Linked DNA regions of Homo sapiens. The gene in region 5 interacts genetically with the main gene of each other region. Each region holds a gene or a part of one and is shown on either strand. Other genes may lie near its edges.

Region 1 (3,500 bases), on a different chromosome or scaffold from region 5:
TGAGGTCAAAGGGGAGAGATGAGTTGAGACATCCTTAAAGAAAGGTTTGAGTTAGACATTAAGACATGAGGAGGAACTCCTCAACAGCAGAACAGGCAGTCAAAGATGATATGGAGTCTCTTTTGAGGAGCAACCTCTCTTTAAAAATTATTTTTGGGCTGGGCACCGTGGCTCATGCCCGTAATCCCAGCACTTCGGGAGGCTGAGGTGGGCGGATCACTTGAGGTCAAGAGTTGGAAACCAGCCTGGCATGTTCGAGACAACATGGTGAAACCCCATCTCTACTAAAAATACAAAAATTAGCCAGGTGTGGTGGCGTGTGCCTGTAATTCCAGCTACTCGGGAGGCTGAGGCAGAGAATCACTTGAACCTGAGAGGCAGAAGTTGCAGTGAGCTGAGATGGCGCCACTGCACTCCAGCCTGGGTAACAGAGCGAGACTCCATCTCAAAAAAAAAAAAATTTTTTTTTGAAGGAATGCATGCATTTGGTAACAAATCCAATGGTACTCAAAGAGTTTATGAAGAAAAACAGCAGTCCTGTTTCCGTTCATCCCTACTCCTGTTCTCGCAGAGTTAACCTCCTTAATTATCTCAGTGTTCTGAAGGTTATCACCATAGCTTTAGATAAAATGCTTGTTCCTCTATTTCTTTGTTTTTTTGTTTGTTTTTGTTGTTGTTTTTGTTTGTTTGTTTGAGATGGAGTCTCGTTCTGTCGCCCAGGCTAGAGTGCAGTGGCACGATCTCGGCTCACTGCAACCTCTGCCTCAGGGTTCAAGCAGTTCTCCTGCCTCAGCCTCCCGAGTAGCTGGGATTACAGGTGCCCGCCACCACGCCTGGCTAAGTTTTTGTATTTTTTGGTAGAGATGGGGTTTCACCATGTTGGCCAGGCTGGTCACGAACTCCTGACCTCAGGTGATCCACCCACCCCGGCCTCCCAGAGTGCTGGGATTACAGCGATCTCAGCTCACGGCAACCTGCGCCTCCCAGGTTTAAGCGATTGTTCTGCCTCAGCCTCCCGAGTAGCTGAGATTACAGGCACCCGCCACCATGCCTGGCTAGTTTTTTATATTTTTTAGTAGAGACGGGGTTTCACCATGTTGGCCAGGCTGGTCACAAAGTGCTGACCTCAGGTGATCCACCCGCCTCAGCCTCCCAGAGTGCTGGGATTACAGGCATGAGCCACTGCACCTGGCCATTTGTTCCTCTATTTCTTTACTTATTGTTACAAACAAGGATTTAGCTTTAGAGGATATACCTCTCATTTATATAATTATGTCATTTTTATTTCTTCTACTGGACACCTGTATAACTTTAAATAATATTTAATATATTTGAACCTTTCTTTCTTTTCCATTAACTTTTGACAGTCTCTCTTAATTCACCTTGTAGAATGAACGTCAGATATTGGTTTCCTTACCCGTTTTTCCATCTCTTGTGGATCCATCTCAAAGGACTGTGAGATGTATAAAAAAAGGATAGAGGAGACTAGTTGTGGTGGCTCATGCTTTGTAATCTCAGCACTTTGGGAGGCCTAGGCGGGAGGGTAGCTTGAGGCCAGGAAGAAGCTTTCCTCCTTGGAAGCATCCCCAACCAGAAATCGTATAGTGAGCCATGATTCCACCACTGCACTCCAACCTGGGCAACAGAGTAAGAGCCTGTCTCTTAAGAAAGAAAAAGGAAAAAAATAAAAAGGCAAGGGGTGGGGAAATAAAGGATCCTTTAAAAGGAGGAAAATTGAGCCAGCCTGCCTGCTTGGAAGCAGGGCACTAGATCAGATGATCTCTTAAAGCCATTCTATGAAAATATAAGAACATAAAAATATCAGAATTGGTGCAAACCAATCCATATTTATCTAGTCCATGGAAAAAATTTTGAAAAAGAGAATGGTGATTAACTGGGTGAGGGGATTGATTTGGGGCTCTTTACCATTCTGTCCTAGCAGAGACTGATCCAATAAGTCCTTTAATGGAGGCCAGTAGAAAGTTGTTTGCCTGGAATCTTTTGAGGTGATAAGAAATGGGGAGCTAGGTTAAGCGATAGCATCTCCTCCCCAGAGAGTCCTCTGCAGACATGTATTTTAACTGCTCAGTCACACAGAACATATGTGTATATCTTCTGTGTCTTCTCCAGCTGCTGCTCTGTGTGACCTGTAACAATTCCTTGTCACTCAGACCAGAATTCCCTACTTTGCCCAGTTGGGAGCTGTGGAACTCAGTCAGTTGTCAACTTTTCCTAGGGGCCAGCTGTTAGGCTGTGGAACAGGGGAGGCCTCTTCCATTTCCCTTCCAGTCTGACTGGAAGGAGAATTTAGGTTCCCAGTGTGAAGTGTAGAGCCTCAGTTGTCTGAACCCCCTTGAAGGCCATAGGAGTCATTTAATATTAAAAATTTAGATTGTCTTCCGTCACTTTTTTCTTATTCCTCTGACTTAGAAGGGGAAGGCTGTTGAATACAGGACTTTTTCCTTCACCTTTTCTTTTGCTTTCCAGTCCTTTCATTTTCTTTAGAACAGTTACCCTCAAAGGCTTTTTTTTTTTTTTTTTTTTAAGACAGAGTCTCACTCTGTCGCCCAGGCTGGAGTGCAGTGGTGTGATCTCGGCTCACTGCAAGCTCCGCCTCCTGGGTTCATGCTATTCTCCTGCCTCAGCCTCCCAAGTGGCTGGGACTACAGGTGCCCACCACCATGCCCGGCTAATTTTTTGTATTTTTAGTAGAGACGGGGTTTCACTGTGTTAGCCAGGATGGTCTCCATCTCCTGACCTCGTGATCTGCCCTCCTCAGCCTCCCAAAGTGCTGGGATTACAGGCGTGAGCCACCATGCCCTGCCCACAAAGGCATATTTTCTTGGCATTCAAAACTAAATGAAGCAAGCTGGGCATGGTGGCGGGTGTCTGTAATCCCAGCTACTTGGGAGGCTGAGGCAGGAGAATCGCTTGAACCTGGGAGGCGGAGGTTGCGGTGAGCCAACATTGCGCCACTGCACTCCACTCCAGCCAGGGCAACAGAGCAAGACTCTGTCTCAAAAAAATAAATAAAATAAAAATAATAGTAATAATAAATAGCTAAAGCAATTTAACCCTATTCCCTACAACACCTTCTTCTCCATATGACTTGCTTCAGATGCAGGCAGTGCCTGGGTTCCTGAGAGGCCAGGGAAGAGACCCAGCTCCAGTTTGGTGGTTTCTAGTGGTAGAGCTGCTTATATAGGAGAGGAGTCTGTTTTTTCCTGCACCTCTCAACACTGTCTAGCTCCCTGAGGAGTAAAAGCTGCCGGGAGGGAGAGTCTGTTCAGTAGCAAAATCCTCTGAATACTGTGATGTGATTCTTAGCTGAGCCCTGGGAGTTTTTCTTTTGTCTGTGAGATAAAAGAGGTGATAGTATCCTTATTTGCCTTCCTGGTGCCAGTAATAATCCCAATCGTAGTTAATTGGGGCAGGCATCTGCTAAATTTTCTAGTGAGGTCTGAGACACTATTATGTGGGAGAATGTCTGAACTGTATTT
Region 2 (3,500 bases), on a different chromosome or scaffold from region 5:
GCTTGAAGGAACATTAAATTAACTCAAGTTATAAGGTGACTATGACGTCCTTTAAGTAAAAATGATCTGGGAAACCCAGTTCATATAATGATCATGGAAAGCCAATGCAAATATTTTTATAAGATTAATTTTGGTTAATCAAACCTGGAAAGTTTGGTACTATTTTCCATCATTCTCCCACAGATATAGTTTTTATATAGACCCATTATATTGGGGGGGGGGGGTGTTACTATGCTCACAGAAAAAACTCACAGAGAAAAATACACAAAATAATATAAAAGATATCACTCAGAATCAACAGATGTTGACATTTTTCTCTAAGTCTCCTTCTTTCCAAATAGTTTTTCAGATATAGTTCAAGTCCTACTCCTCCCATCCTTTTCCCATCTACCCAGACACAACAGTTCATATGATTCTCATAATCTGCTTTATCCTTCCACATTGGACTCTATTATTAAGCACTTATTTTAGCATTAAAAAATGCAGCCCCCAGTTAGCTGTATTTTACTTAGTATTAAGAAACAAAAGACAAAAATCTACAATGCATTCTCTAATGTCTTTAAACAAGATTTAATCCATAGACGTTGTAATCGGATTTGCTTCGAAATAACACTGAGGAGGAGGGGAAGGGGAAGGATCCGAGACACAAATTAGCCATGAACTGAGGAGTGTCAGAAGTGGATGATGAGCATGCAGGGCTTCACTATACTATTCTCTTGAACTCAGCCTACATTTAAAAAGTTCTCTTTATAAGAAAGCTGATGTAGCCCTATAAGAAATAAACTGACATAAAAATATTCCAATATATAAAATGTTAACAACACATTTCCCTAGGAACATTTACTTCTAAAAGTAGAAATTATATAAATGGTTTAATTATGTATCATCTGATGCCAAAGAACAGTGTCTAAAATATTTGAAGCTATTTGAAATAACTTAGTTTACCATATAAATTAAAACTGACCCAAGACTAGAAGCTAGCATATGACAGGAATAAACTGTTCCCTCCACCCATAGTGCTGTGATTTACAGGCTTTAAATAGTTACTTCTCTTTATTTTTCTTCTAATAAGGACAAGAGAGGGGAATGCAGTCTATTGTGAAAACAGAGAAGGCAGAGGGTACGCATCTCAATGGACTGGCTGGGGAAAGCTTTCATGATCAGAAAAACGGGCACCCAGGAGGCGGCCAACGCTGATGGCCATCAGGCATTTGTGAACAGCATTTCTAAGAACTAATACTGTGGACGAGGGGCATCAATTAGATGGAGGAAGTGCTGAATTTCTTCCCCCATTTCATCCTGAAGTCATTTAAGTATATATTCTGCAAATGTTTATGGTCTAGGTGTTAGAATTTGCTTTTTAAATTAATAGTGAGGGGATGAGAAAATAAGAGGTTCCCCTCACCCTAGCACCAACCTCAAAAAAGTTTTAATCACAAATTTTTATAGACTACGGCTACCCAGAAACTAAAGTATCTCCTCAGTCACTCTAATGATTCCCTTTAGACTCAAGACCCCAACAAAGTCCAAACAATTCACAGGAAAAAGTTTTTCATAAGAACAAAGAGAAAGCACCCAACTCATCATAAAGGATTTCAAATTCTGGTAGAGTCATTACTAACTTTTTTTTTTTTTTTTTGAGACGAGTCTCGCTCTGTTGCCCAGGCTGGAGTGCAATGGCGCGATCTCGGCTCACTGCAAGCTCTGCCTCCCAGGTTCACCCCATTCTCCTGCCTCAGCACCCCCGCCCCAGTAGCTGGAACTACAGGCACCCGCCACCACACCCGGATAATTTTTTTGTATTTTTAGTAGAGACACGGTTTCACCATGTTAGCCAGGATGGTCTCAATCTCCTGACCTCGTGATCCACCCGCCTCAGCCTCCTAAAGTGCTGGGATTACAGGCGTGAGCCACCACGCCCGGCCTGTCATTACTAACTTTTAATCCTCACTCAACTTTTCCTGGGCCAGGCATAGTGGCTCACACGTGTAATCCCAGCACTTTGGGAGACTGAGCGGGGCAGACTGCTTGAGCCCAGGAATTCAAGACCAGCCTGAGCAACATAGGGAGACCCAGTCTCTACAAAAATGTTTTTAAAAAATTAGCCGGGTGTGGTGGCACTCACCTGTGGTCCCAGCTACTCAGGAGACTGAGGTAGGGAGGTCGAGGCTGCAGTGAGCTGTGATTACACCAATGCACTTCAGCCTGGGCGACAGACATTGTCTCAAAAAACAACAAAAAATGTTCCCTTGGCAAGTAAACAGTAGGAGAGGAATCTCCTTCCAGCCATGTGGATTGCTGGGAAGAAGGCAATATGCTAATGGTGATCAAGTAAGAAAGTGCTCTCCTATAGCGTATCCTGGAATGGAGACCATCCTTTGAGTATTTTGTATCTGCAGTTTGAGATACTCTGTGTAGTTTACAAACACTTAAAAAGGAGGAATAAATTAACATTTATTGAGCACTTGCACTCATGATGTATGTGAAGTTATTTAATATTCATAATAATACTATAATAAAAAATTGCTATCTCTAGTTTGCTGCTGAGGAAAATTCAATTCAGTGTTAGTAACCTGCCCAAGATTACGAGACTGAGAAATGACAGAAATATTACCTGACCTAAATCCAATGGTATAGCAGCCCATTCTTTTCACTACAAATTGGAGGTGTAGTAAACAAAAAATTGCTATCAGAGAATCTTTCAGAGAATCTAAAAACTGCAAGTGACAGTAAAAAAGTAGAGTTTACATTCTGTATAGAAAAACAAAAGTCCTTTTTACAAGTATCTCTGTTAAATGATTCCTCTCCTAGGCTACAGGATATGTGCAACAGGTACACACAGTGGGCACATGGAAAGAAAATATGTATACTTACCATTGGTAGACAATAAAAACTGAGCAGCATTTTTCTGGGGTAACCACCTAATTTTGTTGATCTTTTCTTCTATTTCTAAACTTTTCAAGTAGTCAAACTCTGGTTCATGGCTCTGGAAGGTGCTGTAAACATTATATTCTCCTCTGCTATGAGACTGGATTTTGTTCTAAAATGAAAACAAAAATATATGGACCATTGTTGAAAAATATTTCAAAATAATCAAATATGTAATCAATTCCAAAGGACCCTGCACATTCTCAATACCCCATTAGTTGTGTCTTTATACAATTACATTCTGTTTTTTATATTTCTAAAGGCCTTCAAGGATTAAATGAGAAAACTTAACGGGGGAAAAGGCTAAATAAAGCTGAATAAATAAGCTCAATTCATTAGGGAAATAATGACGTTAAATATGGATCAATTTGATTGCTAATTTACTCTTATGTATTTGATGGTATAGTCTATGAAAAAAACTGATGAAAAAAAACTGAGCACCCATAATAAGGAAGTTCATCTAAAAATAATGATAAAGTCTTGCCCAGAAAGAGCTAGGTGAGGCACACCTTCTTCCTATGCCCACTTTAGGGTCAACTCCCCGATCTGTTATTTAATATGATGTATTGTCC
Region 3 (3,500 bases), on a different chromosome or scaffold from region 5:
AGTAGATGCCTGAAATCACAGATAGTACCAAACCCTATATCTACTATGTTTTTTCCTATATATACACATACCTATGATAAAGTTTGACTTATAAATTAAGCATAGTAAGAAATTAACAATAATAATAAAATAGAACAATTACAACAGTATACTGTTATGTGAATAAAAGTTATGTGAATGTCAACATTCTGTCTGTCTCTCTCAAAATATCTTGTACTGCACTATAACTGAAACTGTGGAAAGGGAAACCAGAGATAAGCGGGGACTGCTGTATGTTTTACAAAGTACTATCAAGTTTCACTACTTTAAAATACATCAAGTGGGATGTAATATGAAAATATTTTAGAATATGCTGAAAATTGATCACTCCTCAAAAGAATCATGATGAGCTTATTAGAATCTGTTTTGTGATTTGTAATACTAGGAGGCCTTACATCGGGAACAAATGTTGGAACAGAAGTTAGCCACGCTTCAGCGGCTACTAGCCATCACCCAAGAGGCTTCAGATACCAGTTGGCAGGTATTCCAGTTGTTTTATATTTAAGAAACATTTAAACATAGTTTAATATTCCATACATGTTAAATAAACTAAAATGTAGCAAACAAAGACAAAGTTATTTCCTAACTAATGAACAAGTTGTTGAAGATTTAGCATTTTACAGTGGATGCTGGTCAGTTTTACGCTTTTATATCTTTTGTTGTCAGTAGCAACCTTTTTTTATATACATGTGACTTTATAATTACTCGGGTTTTACTTACATTTAATTTTTCTTCAATAGGCTTTAATAGATGAAGATAGACTCTTATCACGGTTAGAAGTTATGGGAAACCAATTACAGGCATGCTCCAAAGTAGGTATTAACCTCAAATGTGTAAAATGAAATGCATAGTTTTTTATGTAACATCATTTCTTTGACTATCATTTTGAGTATATGCTAAAAACTTCATACATTTCCACAATTCTTTTAAATCTTTTGTGCTGAGAAACGTCAGACATCCATGTAAATAAAAATAATTACATAATGAATACCCATGTACAAGTCTGTCTTTTTTCTATTGCAGTTAATATTTCTTGAAAAAACTGGGTCATTTGTCCTCTAGAATTTCCCTCAGTCTGCATTGTTATTTAAACATTTTTTAGCTCCCCCTCCCACTCCATAAAGTAGTAGTTCCATCTAGAGATTTGATGTGATTTAGGTTCAGTTTTTCTTTTTGTCAACAACACTTTATGGATGGTATTGTGTTCTTCCACCAAGGGACAACATAATGTCTAGTTGTCTTTCTTTTTGAGATTTTTATCAATCATTGATGATCCCAGGCTAGATCCATTATTTCATTACGGTTACAAATAAGGCTGGGCGCAGTGGCTCACACCTATAATCCCAGCACTTTGGGAGGATGAGGCGGGCGAATCACCTGAGCTCGAGAGTTCAAGACCAGTCCAACCGACATGGAGAAATCCCATCACTACTAAAAATACAAAATTAGCCGGGCATGGTGGCACATGCCTGTAATCCCAGCTACTCAGAAGGCTGAGACAGGAGAATCCCTTGAACCCAGGAGGCAGAGGTTGCAGTGAGCCAAGATCGTGCCATTGCAATGTAGCCTGGGCAACAAGAGTGAAACTCTGTCTCAACAACAACAACAACAACAAAAAAGTTACAAAAATAATGATGTAATTCTGTTATTCCTTCACTTATTTAGCTGGGTTACTTCTATAAAGAGAAGTTTCCTTCCATACACAGTGGCTCATGCCTGTAATCCTAGCACTTTGGGAGGCCAAGGCAGGCGGATTGCTTGAGGTCAGGAGTTCAAAACCAGCGTGGCCAACATGGCGAAACCCCGTCTCTACTAAAAGTACAAAAATTAGCTGGACATGGTGGCATGTACCTGTAATCCAAGCTACTCAAGAGGCTGAGACAGAATTGCTTAAACCCGGTGGGGGTGGAGGTTGCAGTGAGCCAAGATCGCACCTCTGAACTCCAGCCTGGGCGACAGAGCGAGACTGTCTCAAAAAAAAAAAAAAAAAAAGCGGGGGCAGTTTGAGACCAGTATGGGCAACATGGCAAAACCCAGTATCTACCAAAAATTAAAGATTTGCTTAGCATAGTGGTACATAACCTGTAGTCCTAGCTACTCGGGAGGCTTAGGTGGAAGGATCGCTTGAGCCCAGGAGTTTGTGATTACAGTGAGTTATGATCGCAGAACTGCGCTCCAGCCTTGGTGACAAAGAGAGACCCTGTCTCTAAAAAAACGAAAAAAGGAAAAACAATGGCCATTGTTTTTTGTAACTTTGGCATCAAAAACCAAATACCACATGTTCTCATTTATAAGTGGAAGCTAAGCTATAGGTATGTAAAGGCATAAAGAGTGCTATAATGGACATTGGAGACTCAGAAGTTGGGAAAGTGAGAGGGGAGTGAGGGATGAAAAACTCCCTATTGAATACAATATACACTACTCAGGTAATGAGTGCACTAAAACCCCAGACATCACCACTACATAATTCATCCATGTAACCAAAAACCACTTGTATCTCTAAAGGTATTGGAATAAAAAAATTTAAATAACCCTGAGGTATGTTTTCTACGGGGAAAGCAAGATAAGTGATTTTCTCCCCTTATTTATTAGATTTCAGAATAATGAATTGGTGGTTTTTCATCTACCAAAGACTGGCCATGAAGTGTTTTCTCACTCCACTTAGATTTAAACATATTTGATGTATTTAAATCTGGTGCAGTTGTTTTTCTTGTTTTAGAGACAGGGTCTTGCTATGTTGCCCAGGCTGGTCTTGAACTCCTGGGCTCACGCAATCCTCCCATCTCGGCCTCCCAAAGTGCCACGGCCAGCCTATTTTTCTTATTGATGCTCAAATTATCCCATCTTTGGTCTGTGTAAATGTCTTCAGAGTGATAGCTTCATGCTGTCATTTCAGACAAGATGTTTCAGGCTCATTTTGTACTTTTCCTGCCCCAGACATGAAGTCTGCTTTTCCCCCATGGTACTCTTATTCCTTTTGTTTTAACCATTGTTTCAGAATGCTTGGTGCCTTTGAAGGTAATTGATTATTTTTGCCTACAAATGTGAATATGGTGGCTTGCAGAAAATATGACAAATATAAAAGTAACTAATTTTGTATATTTTAGGGAAATTCTCAATTGCCTATAACTTTTTTTTTCTATAGGAAGTGGAAATTAGTAAGTTTGTGAAGGCATAATTTACTTATGCAACTTGTAAATACATCTTTAGTTAATACAGGGCCAGAATCATTTATGTTTGGAGGTACCTTAATATATAATTTAAAGTATATCATAATGTGTTAATTTTTTTCAAACAATAAATGCTTTTAAAAAATAACTTGTCTATAATTATAAATATCTTTTATTGTAGAATCAAACAGAAGATAGTTTACGAAAGGAACTTATAGCATTACAAGAGGATAAACATAACTATGAGACAACAGCCAAAGAGTCCCTGAGGCGGGTTCTTCAGGAGAAAAT
Region 4 (3,500 bases), on a different chromosome or scaffold from region 5:
ATCTCAAAAAAAAAAAAAAAAAAAAGAAAGTTAATTTTTCCTAGATATATCAACTATCTCTTGATACTTTTCCAGTTTTCTTACATTGAAACAAGTGGAAAATATTATACTGTCACAATATTATACTGTCACAGTCCTCTGTATGTTAACCAATTTGATATTCAAGGGTCATGTTAAAGGATAGCACATCACCATCAGAAATTAGTGTTTAGCAAGCAAAATCCATTCTCTAAGCTTTCTATAGTGTGCTGATTATACAAACCTAAGTATGAAAATTGTTTTTAGAAACTACAACTTGATGACAAGCTCTTTTAAAACTAAACAAACAACAAAGCATGCTGCTGAAATGAGTAATGATCACGGACTGAAAATTTTTCACTGTGGACTAAAATCCTGGAAATGGTTTGTAGCTCTAATCCCAGAGACACTAAGGTTATAGTGTCTCTGGCACACATTTATTGATTTGAGCTTCTATTACCCTCAGGAAGATTTGAAGTCCCAGTGTTATGGGGAAAAATTTCCCAGTCTGCTCTGAATTATAATCTGTTCTGCTACAGTACATGTTTCTGTAACATCAGATAACTCACATACGACTAGTACAGTACAGGAGCTATATTCCTTCATATGGGATATTTCATCATTTAGGGGAGCAGATTAGTGGGAAAATAATTAGGTGACCCTTGAAAACATGGGTTTGAACTGTGCAGGTCTACTTATACATGGATTTTCTTCTGCCTCTGCCACCCCTGAAACAGCAAGACCAACCCCTCCTCCTCCTCCTTATGATTTTCTTCCCTCTAGCTTACGTTACTATAAGAATACAGTATATAATACATATAACATACAAAATATGTTAATCGACTGTTAATGTTATCAATAAGGCTCCAGTCAAAAGTAGACTATTAGTAAAGTTTCTGGGGAGTCAAAAGTTGTACACAGATTTTCAACTGCCTGCAGGGTGAGGATGAGGGCCTGGGGGCAGTACTCCTAACCCCCAAGTGGATCAAGGGTCAACTGTATCACCTTCTGCAGGAAACATCTCTCAACTCAGCTGCTATACAGGCAGAAGTCCTTTTAACTCTATTTTAAGAAAATCAGAAATTCGCATTTGTACCCAGTCTCCCTCTTCAGAGAAAGGCACCTCCAGGGTAGCACAGCTCTCAGCCAATGTGGCAGGTGGCACTGGCCCTACACTGCCTCAATGGCAGCCCACACTGTCTGTATTACATCAGCACCTACTGCTGACATTTCCATTCAACTTTGTCCATGCTTTGTTCATGTCCCCTCGGGCAGCTTCCAGTGAAGCTGAGCTGCCTGCCTGTCTGGGACATCCAAGTTATTCCCTCAAGATGCCAAGTATTGTGTTTGTTAGTGCTTGCTTACTAAATTGCATACATTTTAAGTGGTCTGACTCAATAATATTTTCCTATAAACCATATTATTTTGCAGTTTTTCAGAAACATATATAATACATGCTGACCAAAACGCTTGTATTAGTAAAACTTCTATTTCTCATAACTATTGATCATAACTACTATTTTTTCAACATTCCAATTTATAAAAAGTATATATCCTCTATCAAGTACATCTTCTAGAACACATAGCTTAAATTACTAAATTTGAGCATTTGGGGTTTGTTCTTTTAAAAAAAAAAAGAGGCCAGGTCCGATGGTTCACACCTGTAATCCGAGCACTTTGGAAAGCTGAGGCAGGAGGACTGCTTGAGGCCAGGAGTTCAAGACCAACCTAGGCAACCTAGTGAGACCCTGTCTCTACTAAAAATTTAAAAATTAATCAGGCATGGTGGTGTGTGCCTGTAGTCCCCACTATTTGGGAAGCTGAGGCGGGAAGATCACTTAAGCCCAGGAGTTCAAGGGTACAGTGAACTAAAGATCATGCCAGCCACTGAACTCCAGCCTGGGCAACAGAGCAAGACCCTGTTTTAGGGGGAAAAAAAAATCTATCTTAGCTCCTATGTGCCATAAATGTTACAACACTCATAGTCTGGAGGAATCACAAAGTCTTTAAGAAAATGGAGACAGGACCTATAGTGATCACTACTCACAAATCACTAGAATCACATGCTGAAACACTGCTGCAGAATATCAATGTGTGGTCTGTTCCCACTGCCATTAACCCAACCATGACTTTCTCTGCCTGTCCTGGTATAGACCATTTAGTTCTTGTTAAGCACAGTTTTCATTATTTTCAACCTTTACCAACCAAAAACTACTAAAGAAAAAGTTAATATTCTAAGGAGTACAGTTAAGAGATATCCTAACATTCTCACTGAATCAGCCAAATATAAAGGCTAACATGTTAAACAGGCTAGAGCAGTTTTCTTCAAACTAAAGCAGTAGGGCCCTGGAGTTAACAAGACAACTTTCCAGGAGGTTAGGATAGTTTAAGGAGAATCCGGTTAAAGGTGGTCTGCTTCCACCGTACTCCCAGAGCTTGATCTGTCTGAGAATTCTTGTGGTTTGCTGGTTGTCCTTCCCATCCTCCCTTATAAATGTATTCACTTCTCCCACATTACTTCCTAATCTTACAATTGTTCATTTCCCAGACAGGTGCAGTGGCTCATGCCTGTAATCCCAGAACTTTGGGAGGCCAAGGTGGGTGGGTCACCTGAGGTCAGGAGTTCGAGACCAGGCTGGCCAACATAGTAAATCCCCTTCTCTACTAAAAATACAAAAATCAGCCGGGTGTGGTGGCAGGCACCTGTAATCCCAGCTACTCGTGAGGCTGAGGCAGGAGAATTGCTTGAACCCAGGAGGCGGAGGCTACAGTGACCCAAGATTGCGCCACTGCACTCCAGCCTAGGTAACAGATCAAGACTCCATCTTGAGAAAAAAAAAAAATAGGAGCCGGGCTAGGTGGCTCACACCTGTAATCCCAGCATTTTGGGAGGCCGAGGTGGGCGGATCACGAGGTTGGGAGTTTGAGACCACCCTGGCTAACATGGTGAAACCCCATCTCTACTAAAAATACAAAAAATCAACAGGGTATGGCGGCGGGCACCTGTAATCCCAGCTACTGGGGAGGCTGATGCAAGAGAATCGCTTGCAACCAGAAGGCAAAGGTTGCAAGGAGCCAAGTTCGCACCACTGCACTCTAGCCTGAGGAAAAGAGCGAAACTGTCTCAAAAAAAGAAAAAAAAAAGGAGTATATTTTTTATATATTCACAGAATATCTCAGGAGAGATGCATAGGAAACTGCTGACACTGGTTGTCCCAGGGTGGCCGAGGCAGGGGTGGAAGGAAGACTGTGTCACCAACTACCTTTTTGTATCTTTTGTGTTTTCAACCATAAGGATGTATAATCTATTTTATTTACAACTTAAAATTCATATTTTCCAAACTCCCAAATACTTTAATTAGTATATTGAGATGCAAAAAAAGTCCTTTTAGGCCAGGCGCGGTGGCTCACACCTGTAATCCCAGCACTTTGGGAAGCTGAGGGGAGAGGATCACGTGAGGTCAGGAGTTCAAGAACAGCCT
Region 5 (3,500 bases):
TTAGCATTGAATGAGACAGCAAATACTTTAAAGTGTTTGAAACAGTGCTTGGCACATGGTAAATGCTGAACAGATAGTAATACATACACACAACAATGCTATAGATTTTTTTCTTGTATTTTTTATAAAAGCATATATTTGTTTTCTAGTCAGAAAAAGGTTAAAGAATAAAGATTGATTAAAAGTAGTATAGGGTGGAATTATGACACTAATTTTCTATTTTATGTTCTCTCTGATGTCTGCATGCTTAAATAAACATTTAAGTAAATTTTAAAATATTTTTATATTTGAGGGTAGTGTGGCAGGAAAGATTCACAGTCAGGCAGTTTATTACTACTGGCAAATTACAAGTTTCACATAAAAAAAGCACATATAGTCATTTCTCCAAAAAACCTACCCACACCACCAATAAGGACATGAAAAGATATTCACCATCTTTACTATTAGGGAAATGCAAAGCAAAACCACAGGGAGTGAGATACCACTTCACACCAAAATACGGACAATAACAAATGTTGGTTAGGATGTGGAGAAACTGAAACTCTTATTTATGGCTGGTAAGAATGTAAAATGGTACAGCCACTGTGGAAAGCAGTTTGGCATTTCCTCAAATAATTAAACATAGAATCACTATATATTAATAAAACTATAGTTAATATATATCATATTCTTGGAGAAAAACATGCATTACCATATATGACCCTGTAATTCTGCTCCTAGGTATATACCCAAGAGAAGTGAAAACACATTCCATACCAAATCTTGTATGAGAACATTAATAGCCATATTATTTATAATAGCCAAAAAATAATACCTCACCTGAGGAATGGAAAACAAAATGTGGCGTATCCATGCAATAGAACATTGGCCATAAAAAAGGAAGGAAATACTGATACATGCTATAACGTGGATGAACCTTGAAAACATGCTGATTGAAAGCAGTCAGATTCAAGGCCACATATTGTATGATTTCATTTATATAACATGTTCAGAATAGGCAAAGCAGGTTAGTGGGTGCCAGAGGCTGGGGAGGAGGGAATGGGATGTAACTTCTAATAGGAATGGGGTTTTGTGGGGGTGGTGAAAACATTAGAAATTAGATAAGAGCAATGGTTGCACAATTCTGTGAATATATTAAAAACCACTGATTTATTTTTTCACTTCAAAAATGATTCTAAAGTACATTAGAGAGAATAAAGCTTAAAGAATAGCTGAGGAATTGTTGGGAAAAACAATAAAGAACACTCTACCATTAGATACTTACATGTTTATTAATAAGACAGAGTAATTAAAATTGTGATGCTATTTCAAAAATAGACTCAGTAATGGAACAGAATATAAAGTCCAGAAACAAATTCCAATACATAATATGTACATATTTCATTAATGATGAATATGGCATTTCACATAATTAGAGAAAGGATTCCCTGTTCAATTTGTGATGCTGGTAAAATTTATTGACTTTTTAGAAAATAGAAAGTTAGGTGGTTTTTTTTTTTTAATCTTAAATACCAAATTGAACTTTAAATGGAATAAAAACCTATATGAAGAAAAGAGACTCACATTATGCTAAGTGAAATAAGCCAAGCGCAGAAGGATAAATATTGCATGGTGTCACTTGTAGGTGGACTCTAAACAAGTTGAACTCATGGAAATAGTAGAATGGTGATTGCAGGAGTAGGGGTTGTGGTGGGGAACAGGGAGTTGCTGGTTAAAGGGTACAAAGTTTCCGTTAGGATGAGTAAGTTCTGGAGGTCTAATGGTAGAACATGGTAATTACTGTTAATAATGTATACCCAAAGATTTCTAAGAGCGTTATCTTAAATGTTCTTACCACAAAAAATAAAATACTTATGTGAGGTGATAGATAAGTTAATTCACTTGATGGTGGTAATCATTTCACAGTGTATACATAAAAACAATATGTCGTACATCGTATATATATATGTGTGTGTATACGTGTGTGTGTGTGTGTGTGTGTGTGTATATACACAATTTTAATTTGTCATTTATACTTCTTCAATAGACCTGAGGGAGAAAAGAAAAAAAAGAATTTTACTTGACTCCCAATCTTTAAAAAAAAAAAAAGAATTTAAAAAATCAGTTGCAGTAATATATCGAAAATAATATTTATAACACATATGACAAATAGAGACTTAATATCTTTAATATGTAAAGACCTCTTACAAACTCGTAAGAAAAATAATGACTATCACAAATAGTAAATTAGATAATTCATAAAAGTAGAGAATTAGGCAAAATAGGCAGTTCATAAATGAAGAAGCAAAGGAAAAGTAATCACACAAGAAAAGATATTTAGGCTTAATGATAATTAAGGAAATGTAAATTAAAATGAAATGTGATTCTTATTAGTGAAGATTAAAGTATTGATGATGAATTTAGGAAATAAGCATTAACATGTACTTCCAATAGGAGTATAAATTATACAGTCTTTCTGCAGGACACTTTATATATCAAGAACTTTATAAAGTTTTTTTCTTTGTTCCAGCAAGTATATTTCTACAAATTTCTCCTAAATAATTAGATATGTACATAGATTTATTTATGAGTGTTACTTATACAAGAGTAGAAACAAACACAGGAATGGTTAAATTCTGTTAATCTTGAGGGTGAAATATTTTACGAGTTAAAAATTATAGAATAATATTTAATGCCATAGGAATGTATTTATAATTGAAGTAGAATAAAATTGGTACAAAAGAATATCCCAGATTTTTCTTAAAAATAAACTCTGTGCATGTGCATACATAGAAAAAAACCTGAAAGATTTGTTTTCTGCCAGAATGTTACAAGTAGTGATCTCTGGCCAACAAAATAATGGATGATTTTTGTTTGCTTTTTTATATTTTCCCATATTATTGGAATTTTCTATATTGATCATTTTGTATCACTTTTATAATCAGAAGAAAACCCAAATACTATTTTTAAAAGTTTAAAGGACCTATGGCATATGTATTTTTAGTAGTCTTTCATTTTTAGCACGTTATCCCTCTTTTTCATAGCCCTGCATTTGCAGTTTTCTTGTAGTTTATTTATTCACTTATTCATGTTTTCATATGGAAGTAGGAAAAGAAAGATATTTAACGTATATCATACGAAGGTCATTTATCCCATCAGTACTGTACATTAAAGCCATATCTTCATATAGTATCTTTAGATCACTTAAAAGTTAACTGGATCACTTAAAAGTAATTGCTGTCTTTTTTAAAAAAATCATTGCCTCTATCTTTATATCTTTTTATTCTAACAAGAGAATACCCTGAAATTCCAGTTAAAGTTTCTAATATGCATCTTTATATCTTAGGGAAAAGAATATAGTGGATTTTCTCTTTAAAAGCCTAAGAATTTTTTTAAGAAATTGATTTTGTTGAAAATATATATATATATTTTTTTTCTTTTTTGAGATGGAGTCTTGTTTTGTCGCCCAGGCTGGAGTATAGTGGAGCAATCTCGGCTCACTGCAACCTATACCTCCCAGG
Region 6 (3,500 bases), on a different chromosome or scaffold from region 5:
CTTATTTTCATTTTCAGGGTTGAGTACTCTAAGCTCTCTACTTACTGTGAGAAGTTTTCTACATTGTAAAATTAAAAGATTATATTTAAAATACTTCTTTAGGATGTTATTCAGCCATCAAAAAAAAACCCAACTAAAATGTCTTACCAGTAAAGTATTATTAAAAGCCTCATTTGTGGAGATTCGCTGACTTCCTTGGTTAAGCTGTCTTGTATTTACTTAATTTGTCCCCTCAACCAGGTGTTTTCTTTTCAGCCTGTTACTGTCCTGTGCCATTTTTAAAAATAGCCATCATGAGTAAGGGCTTCTTTAAAATAATCCCTGACAATATCTTTGGCATTAATACGACATAAAGACAAGACAGTATATGTATGTTTTCATTCCTGTTTTGTACGAGTGCCTCATTTTGTAGTCATGAAAGTAACATAGTACCTTAAATAAAAATGTAATGACTAATCTAAGGTCTAGGAATAACTATTGTAGAAGCTAAGTAGAACACTTAGTTTGGGGTGTCAATTTTCTATCAACGCAAACACCTTAGGGTACCCAGACCAATTTTATGTATATATATTCTGAAATGCTCCCTTTTTAATGTGGTCATTTGTTGCCTTCTAAGTTGAGAGGACAAAACTGAATAAAGTGAATGTTAATTGTAGTCTAGTTTTTTTGTTTGTTTTTGTGTTATTGCAAGATTGCTTTAAGATTGCAGAAATATGCATTATTAGCCAGCATAGATAATCCAGATGTTATAATAGGAAGGAAAAACAACTCCAGTTAAATGTGACTGTGGCGACTCCCTTTTATGTATACATTTAAATGCATAGTTGCAGAGGACACATCCCTCCCCTTCTGTCTCCCTAACTTGAACTGTAGACCGTCCTCACTGGGAAGAGTAAGGCCCCACATTTTGTGCAATAGCAAGCTACTGCCCACTTCTGCATGTCTGCTACGAGATCAGAAAGTCAGTTTCACTAAGGTTGTCTTTTAGCTGAATACTTAGAGTAAAACCAATCAAATCCATTGTACATACCTGACCATATGTCCCAGATAAAAAGGAAAGACTTGCGTGATGTTTTTTTCCTTCTGAGTGCCCTGAGGAGATCCTTTTGCTTCAGACTATTTCTAATTTTTCTTTGTTTATAGGTTCAGAATTTTTTCCATGATTGTTTTCCCCCAAACAAGTGCATTTTTAATTACTTTAAATGCAGGGGTGATAGAGGAAATGCTATTCGAACCATAGACATCTTTAATCTGTGAAGCTGAAATTTTTCAGCAAAGGAAATTGCATGGTCAAGTTCAGAAACTGGCCATTAATTTCCCCCTTCCGCTCCACAGTTCATAGCTACTCTTGTTGCAAACATGTAGTGATAAGGAGAACTAACGTATCAAGGGGCTGAGAGGGTAACGTTCCCCTCCTCCTCCATGTTTTTATTTTGGTGTCTGTTTTGTTTCTAGCACTGTATTTAGTACTGTAGTTGAATGAGGTATGATGTCTCCCTTCAAGGAACTCAGAATGGAACAGAAGCATGAGCAAAAGATTGTATTACAGAGGTATGAATAAAATGCCATGGGGAACACAGAGAAAGGTTCACCCGGGAGAGATGGCCTAGCCACTTCCTTAGTGACTGTTTGGTATATGTAGGTCCCCCTGCCATTACTCTTTCAGCCTTCTGCAATCTAGTTCTACTTAGTCACACACTTCTCTAAGACCACTCATACGTAAACACTACGTAGAGGCCCCTTTTTGCCTCATTTTACATTGTTTAGTTATCATTTTGAAACTTTTCTTCACATATGTAACAGTGCCGGAGTTTTTCTGCTTCTCTGTGTTTGTTCAGTAACTCTTCTTTAGGATACACCTAAAGATGAGAAGCTTCATACCCAGTACTCCTCTTCATTCACTCATATGTTTTTGGGATCAGTCCCTTCTGCTGGCTGTGCATTGGTCTAATGGAACAGAATAGAGTCCAGAAATAACCCAACATGTATGTGGACAACTGGTTTTTGACAGAGGTGCAAAGGTCTTGAAAAAATGATGCTGGAATAATTGGGCATCAGATGCAAAATTAAAAACAAATTGATCCATATCTTAACACTGGCAAAGATTAAAGTCCAAATGGATTATAGTTCCCCAAAACTGTATAATTTCTAGAAGACAACAAGGAAAACGTGTTCAGCCTTGGGTTAGGAAAAGATTTCTTAAATCCAACACCAAAAGCACAATCCATGAAGGAAAAATCGATAAATTGTACTTTATCAAAATTGAGAACTTCTCTTTGAAAGGTACCATAAGGAGAACAAAAAGACAAGCTGTAGAGTGGCAGAAAAATATTTGCAAAACATTTCTGATAAATGAGTTGCATCTAGATTACATAAAGAAGTCTCAAAACTGAACAAGTAAACCCATTGTTTACTTAATCGCTGTTTCTCCTGAGCTTGCTGCCTCTGCCCCTGCTCTCTCTCCTTTTCCATTTGTTTTCAACATTGAATCCAGAATGTTCTTCTTGAGATCCAAGTCAGATCACACCAACCCTCAGAACTCTCCAATAGACGACCATGGCACTCAAAAGTCCACAATAGCCTTCAATGCTGGGCAAAACATGAAGCACCCCTTTTCTCCCTTCTCTGACCCCATCACCTCTGTGTTCACCCTGCTCCTGCCGTCCTCCCTGCCTCCAAAACAGGTCAGGCCTTCGTGCCTTTGCACTTACTATTTGCAATACCCAAATGTTCTTCAGGCTCTTTAGCCTCTTCATTTCTTTCCTGAAGTGTCATTCTCACTGAGGCTTATCTAAAGCTGCAGCTACTGGGGCATTCCTGTCTCATCTCCCTGCTGTATTTTGTACTCCCGGCTCTCTTTTGTACTTTTAAACATACTATATGGTTTACCTTTGTTGTTTATATTTGCATGTTGTTTCCCACTTGAATGTAAGCTCCAAAGATTTTATTTTTTTAAACTGAATTATTACTGTATTCCCAGAACAATTCCCTGGCAAATATTTGGTACTCAATAGTAATGCTAAGTTAGTAAATAAATGATGAATTTAGAATCAAAATAATGTGTCTATGGCCAAAATAAAACCTGAAATCCCTGTCCTATTTCCCAGAGGTAACTGCTGTTAATAGTTTAGTTGTGTGCTTCCAGACATACCTTCACAGAATCATTTATCACAATAAAGGTGTCATACTATGCAGATTGTTTGACAAGATGCTTTTTTTCACTTTACACGGGCATCTTTTCATACCATTGTGTGGCCAGGCCATGATTTGTTTTCCAAAAGACATTTACCCAATTTATATGGTGAAGATTTTTGTCCATATTACTTTTTATAGTATTTCTGTAGGGTAAGTTCCCAGAAGTAATATTGCACGATCATCGAAAAATTTTAGTGTTACATTACTGCCCCATAAAGGTACTAATTAACATCCCTCTCAACAACATAGAAGATTCCTTTTTTTTTTTTTCTTTTTTTGGGTGGAGGGGGGCGGGGACAGAGTCT
Region 7 (3,500 bases), on a different chromosome or scaffold from region 5:
GTGCTTCCCACCCAACCAGCAGCTTCAGAATCAGAGGAACCTGCTATAATAATGGTACAAATTGAGATCCCAGGTCCCACCTTTGTAAAATCCTATTTCATAGGATTCAAAAGGATCCCAGAATCTGCATTAGTAAAAAATCTCATGTGGCCGGGTGCGGTGGCTCACACCTGTAATCTCAGCACTTTGGCTCAGGCGGGCAGATCACCTGAGGTCAGGATTTTGAGACCAGCCTGGCCAAAAAGCTGTACGTTTCTTTAGGAAAGCCTGGGCCAGGCGTAGTGGTTCACACCTGTAATCCCAGCACTTTGGGAGGCCAAGGTGGGAGGATCACGAGGTCAGGAGTTCGAGACCAGCCTGGCCAAATGGTGAAACCCATCTCTACTAAAGACACAAAAAAATTAGACAAGCATGGTGACGCACACCTGTAATCCCAGCTACTTCAGGGGCTGAAGCAGGAGGATTGCTTGAACCATGGAGGTTAAGGCTGCAGTGAGCCAAGACTGCACCACTGTACTCTAGCCTGGGGGACAAAGTGAGACCATTTCTGAAAAACCAAAACAAAACAAAACAAAACTGCAGTTTCTAACTGGCTTTGCAAGTTGATTCAGTCAATAAAGGCACTAATTAATGGTGGGAGTCATTATTTGCCTTTAGCGTTAATACATGATAATCAGATTAAGATCCATTAGTTTAAGGTCTTGTAGTCTGCTATCAATTTTTGCAAAGGAAATATGTATACACAAAGACTTAGAAAAACCTCTCAGCTGGGCGCAGTGGCTCACGCCTGTAATCCCAGCACTTTGGGAGGCCAAGGCAGGCAGATCACGAGGTCAGGAAATTGAGACCACCCTGTCCAACATGGTGAAACCCCGTCTCTACTAAATATACAAAAATTAGCTGAGCATGGTGGTGCACGCCTGTAGTCCCAGCTACTCGGGAGGCTGAGGCAGGAGAATCACTTGAACCCGGGAGGCAGAGGCTGCAGTGAGCCAAGATCTGCACCACTGCACTCCAGCCTGGGTGACAGCGTGAGACTCCGTCTCAAAAAATATATATATATATTTTTTTTTTTTGAAAAAGGCTACTGTTAGGTCTTTTGTTTTTTATTAATTTATTTATTTTTGTGACAGGTTCTCACTCTGTTGCCCAGGCTAGAGGGTAGTGGCATGATCATGGCTCATTGCAGCCTTAACCTCCTGGACACAGGTGATCCTCCTACCTCAGCCTCCTGAGTAGCTGGGACCACAGGCTGGCACCACTACACTGGACTAATTTTTCTTACTTTTTTATAGATATGGGGTCTTCCTATGTTGCCTACCCTGGTCTGAACTCCTAGGCTCAAGCAGCCCTCCTGCCTTGGCCTCCCAAAGTGCTGGGATTACAGGTGTGAGCCACTGCACCCGGCCTATTTATTTATTTTTGAGACAAGATACTGCCATGTCACCCAGGTTGTAGTGCAGTTGTGCAATTGTAGCTCACTGCAGTCTTGACCTCCTGGGGTCAAGTGATCTTCCTGTCTCAGCCTCCCCAGTAGCTGGGACTACTGGGCCCGCACCATGCCTATTTTTTAAAAATTCTTTGTAGAGACAGGTTCTCACTATGTTGCCGAGGGTGGTCTTGAATTCTTGGGCTAAAACAATCCTAGCACCTCGGCCTCCCAAAGTGCTGACATTACAGGTGTGAGCCACCACACCTGGTGAGGTCTTTTGACTATAATATATAAAATATCTGTGCTAGATGTTGTGGCTCATGCCTGTAATCCTAGCTCTTTGGGAGGCCAAGGCAGGAGGATTACTTGAGTCCAGGAGTTCAAGACCATCCTGGGCAACAGAGTGCAGCTCTGTTTTCTAAAAAAAACTGTTTAGTTAGCCAGGTTTCAGGGCATGTGCCTGTAGTCCTAGCTTCACAGGAGGCTGACGTGGGAGGATCACTTCAGCCAGGAGGTTCGAGGCTGCAGTGAGCCATGATCAAGTGACTACACTTCAACTTGGGTGACAGAGCAAGACCCAGGCTCTTTAAAAAACAAACAAACAAACGAAACTGGAACGGGTATGGTGGCTCACACCTGTAATGCCAGCACTTTGGGAGGCTGAGGCAGGAGGATCATGAGGTCAGCAGATAGAGGCCATCCTGGCCAACATGGTGAAACCCCGTCTCCACTAAAAATACAAAAATTAGGCCGAGCACAGTGGCTCATAACTGTAATCCCAGCACTTTGGGAGGCAGAGGCGGGCAGATCACGAGGTCAGGAGATTGAGACCATCCTAGCTAATATGGTGAAACGCTGTCTCTACTAAAAAAAAAAAAAAAATACAAAAAATTAGCCGGGTGTGGTGGCGGGCACCTATTGTCCCAGCTACTCGGGAGGCTGAGGCAAGAGAATGGCATGAACCCAGGAGGCGGAGCTTGCAGCGAGCCAAGATCGCACCACTGCACTCCAGCATGGGTGACAGAGTGAGACTCCGTCTCAAAAAAACAAAAACAAAAACAAAACAAAACAAACAAACAAAATACAAAATCAGCCAGGCATGGTGGCATGTGCTACAGGTGCCTGTAACCCCAGCTACTCGGGAAGCTGAGGCAGGAGAATCGCTTGAACCTGGGAGGTGGAGGTTGCAGTGAGCTGAGATCGCACCACTGCACTCCAGCCTGGCAACACAGCAAGACTCCGTCTCAAAAACAAAAAACACCAAACTGGCCAGGCACAGTGGCTCACGCCTGTAATCCCGGCACTTTAGTAGGCCGAGGTGGGCGGATCACCTGAGCTCGGGAGTTCGAGACCAGCCTGGGCAACGTGGCGAAACCCCGTCTCTACTAAATATACAAAAATTAGCTAGACATAGTGGCGCATGCCTGTAGTCCCAGTTGCTCAGGAGGCTGAGGCAGAATTGCTTGAACCCAGGAGATGGAGGTTGCAGTGAGCCAAGATCACGCCACTGCACTCCAGCCTGGGCAATAGAGAAAGACTATCTCAAAAACAAAAAACAAAAGCAAACTGAAGATCTAATTATACTGTAATATGTAATTTAAGCAAACTTCATTAAATACTTAAGACTTTTCGGCCAGGCGCGGTGGCTCACGCCTGTAATCCCAGCACTTTGGGAGGCCGACGCGGGCGGATCACCTGAGGTCAGGAGTTTGAGACCAGCCTGACCAATGTGATGAAACCCTGTCTCTACTAAAAATACAAAAATTAGCCGGGTGTGGTGGCATGCACCTGTAATCCCAGTTGCTCAGGAGGCTGAGGCAGGAGAATTGCTTGAATCTGGGAGGCAGAGGTTGCAATGAGCCATTGCACTCTAGCCTGGGCAACAAAAGTGAAACTCCATCAAAAAAAAAAAAAAAAAGAGTTTTCAACAGAATATGCAAGCATCAACTACTGCTTTGGAATAGTTAAGCAAAACTAGATCCCAGCATTGAAACGTTTTCTCACCTTCTTGAAAAATATCCTGTTCTCCAACTTGATACCATATCCCTACTCTCTGTATTATTAGCAG

What was found.
Region 1: changes in PTAR1 (region 5) and PI4KB are lethal when combined (synthetic lethality), as found in Homo sapiens cells (one study listed by BioGRID).
Region 2: changes in PTAR1 (region 5) and PPP2R2A are lethal when combined (synthetic lethality), as found in Homo sapiens cells (one study listed by BioGRID).
Region 3: changes in PTAR1 (region 5) and SLMAP are lethal when combined (synthetic lethality), as found in Homo sapiens cells (one study listed by BioGRID).
Region 4: changes in PTAR1 (region 5) and SPTSSA are lethal when combined (synthetic lethality), as found in Homo sapiens cells (one study listed by BioGRID).
Region 6: changes in PTAR1 (region 5) and MARCHF6 are lethal when combined (synthetic lethality), as found in Homo sapiens cells (one study listed by BioGRID).
Region 7: changes in PTAR1 (region 5) and SEC24A are lethal when combined (synthetic lethality), as found in Homo sapiens cells (one study listed by BioGRID).

What each region holds. Positions count from the first base shown.
Region 1 is NC_000001.11:151,320,917-151,324,416, reverse strand, and holds part of PI4KB (phosphatidylinositol 4-kinase beta), read left to right. Parts: intron 1-3,500. UniProt on the Homo sapiens protein: Phosphorylates phosphatidylinositol (PI) in the first committed step in the production of the second messenger inositol-1,4,5,-trisphosphate (PIP). May regulate Golgi disintegration/reorganization during mitosis, possibly via its phosphorylation.
Region 2 is NC_000008.11:26,354,008-26,357,507, reverse strand, and holds part of PPP2R2A (serine/threonine-protein phosphatase 2A 55 kDa regulatory subunit B alpha isoform), read right to left. Parts: intron 3,041-3,500; coding exon 2,875-3,040; intron 1-2,874. UniProt on the Homo sapiens protein: Substrate-recognition subunit of protein phosphatase 2A (PP2A) that plays a key role in cell cycle by controlling mitosis entry and exit. Involved in chromosome clustering during late mitosis by mediating dephosphorylation of MKI67.
Region 3 is NC_000003.12:57,857,309-57,860,808, forward strand, and holds part of SLMAP (sarcolemmal membrane-associated protein), read left to right. Parts: intron 1-424; coding exon 425-520; intron 521-779; coding exon 780-851; intron 852-3,390; coding exon 3,391-3,500. UniProt on the Homo sapiens protein: Associates with the striatin-interacting phosphatase and kinase (STRIPAK) core complex, forming the extended (SIKE1:SLMAP)STRIPAK complex.
Region 4 is NC_000014.9:34,452,241-34,455,740, forward strand, and holds part of SPTSSA (serine palmitoyltransferase small subunit A), read right to left. Parts: intron 1-3,500. UniProt on the Homo sapiens protein: Component of the serine palmitoyltransferase multisubunit enzyme (SPT) that catalyzes the initial and rate-limiting step in sphingolipid biosynthesis by condensing L-serine and activated acyl-CoA (most commonly palmitoyl-CoA) to form long-chain bases.
Region 5 is NC_000009.12:69,725,512-69,729,011, reverse strand, and holds part of PTAR1 (protein prenyltransferase alpha subunit repeat-containing protein 1), read left to right. Parts: intron 1-3,500.
Region 6 is NC_000005.10:10,437,195-10,440,694, forward strand, and holds the end of MARCHF6 (E3 ubiquitin-protein ligase MARCHF6), read left to right. Parts: 3' UTR 1-3,194; downstream 3,195-3,500. UniProt on the Homo sapiens protein: Endoplasmic reticulum membrane-associated E3 ubiquitin ligase that plays a critical role in mitigating endoplasmic reticulum stress, the regulation of cholesterol and lipid homeostasis, and ferroptosis.
Region 7 is NC_000005.10:134,651,785-134,655,284, reverse strand, and holds part of SEC24A (protein transport protein Sec24A), read right to left. Parts: intron 1-3,500. UniProt on the Homo sapiens protein: Component of the coat protein complex II (COPII) which promotes the formation of transport vesicles from the endoplasmic reticulum (ER).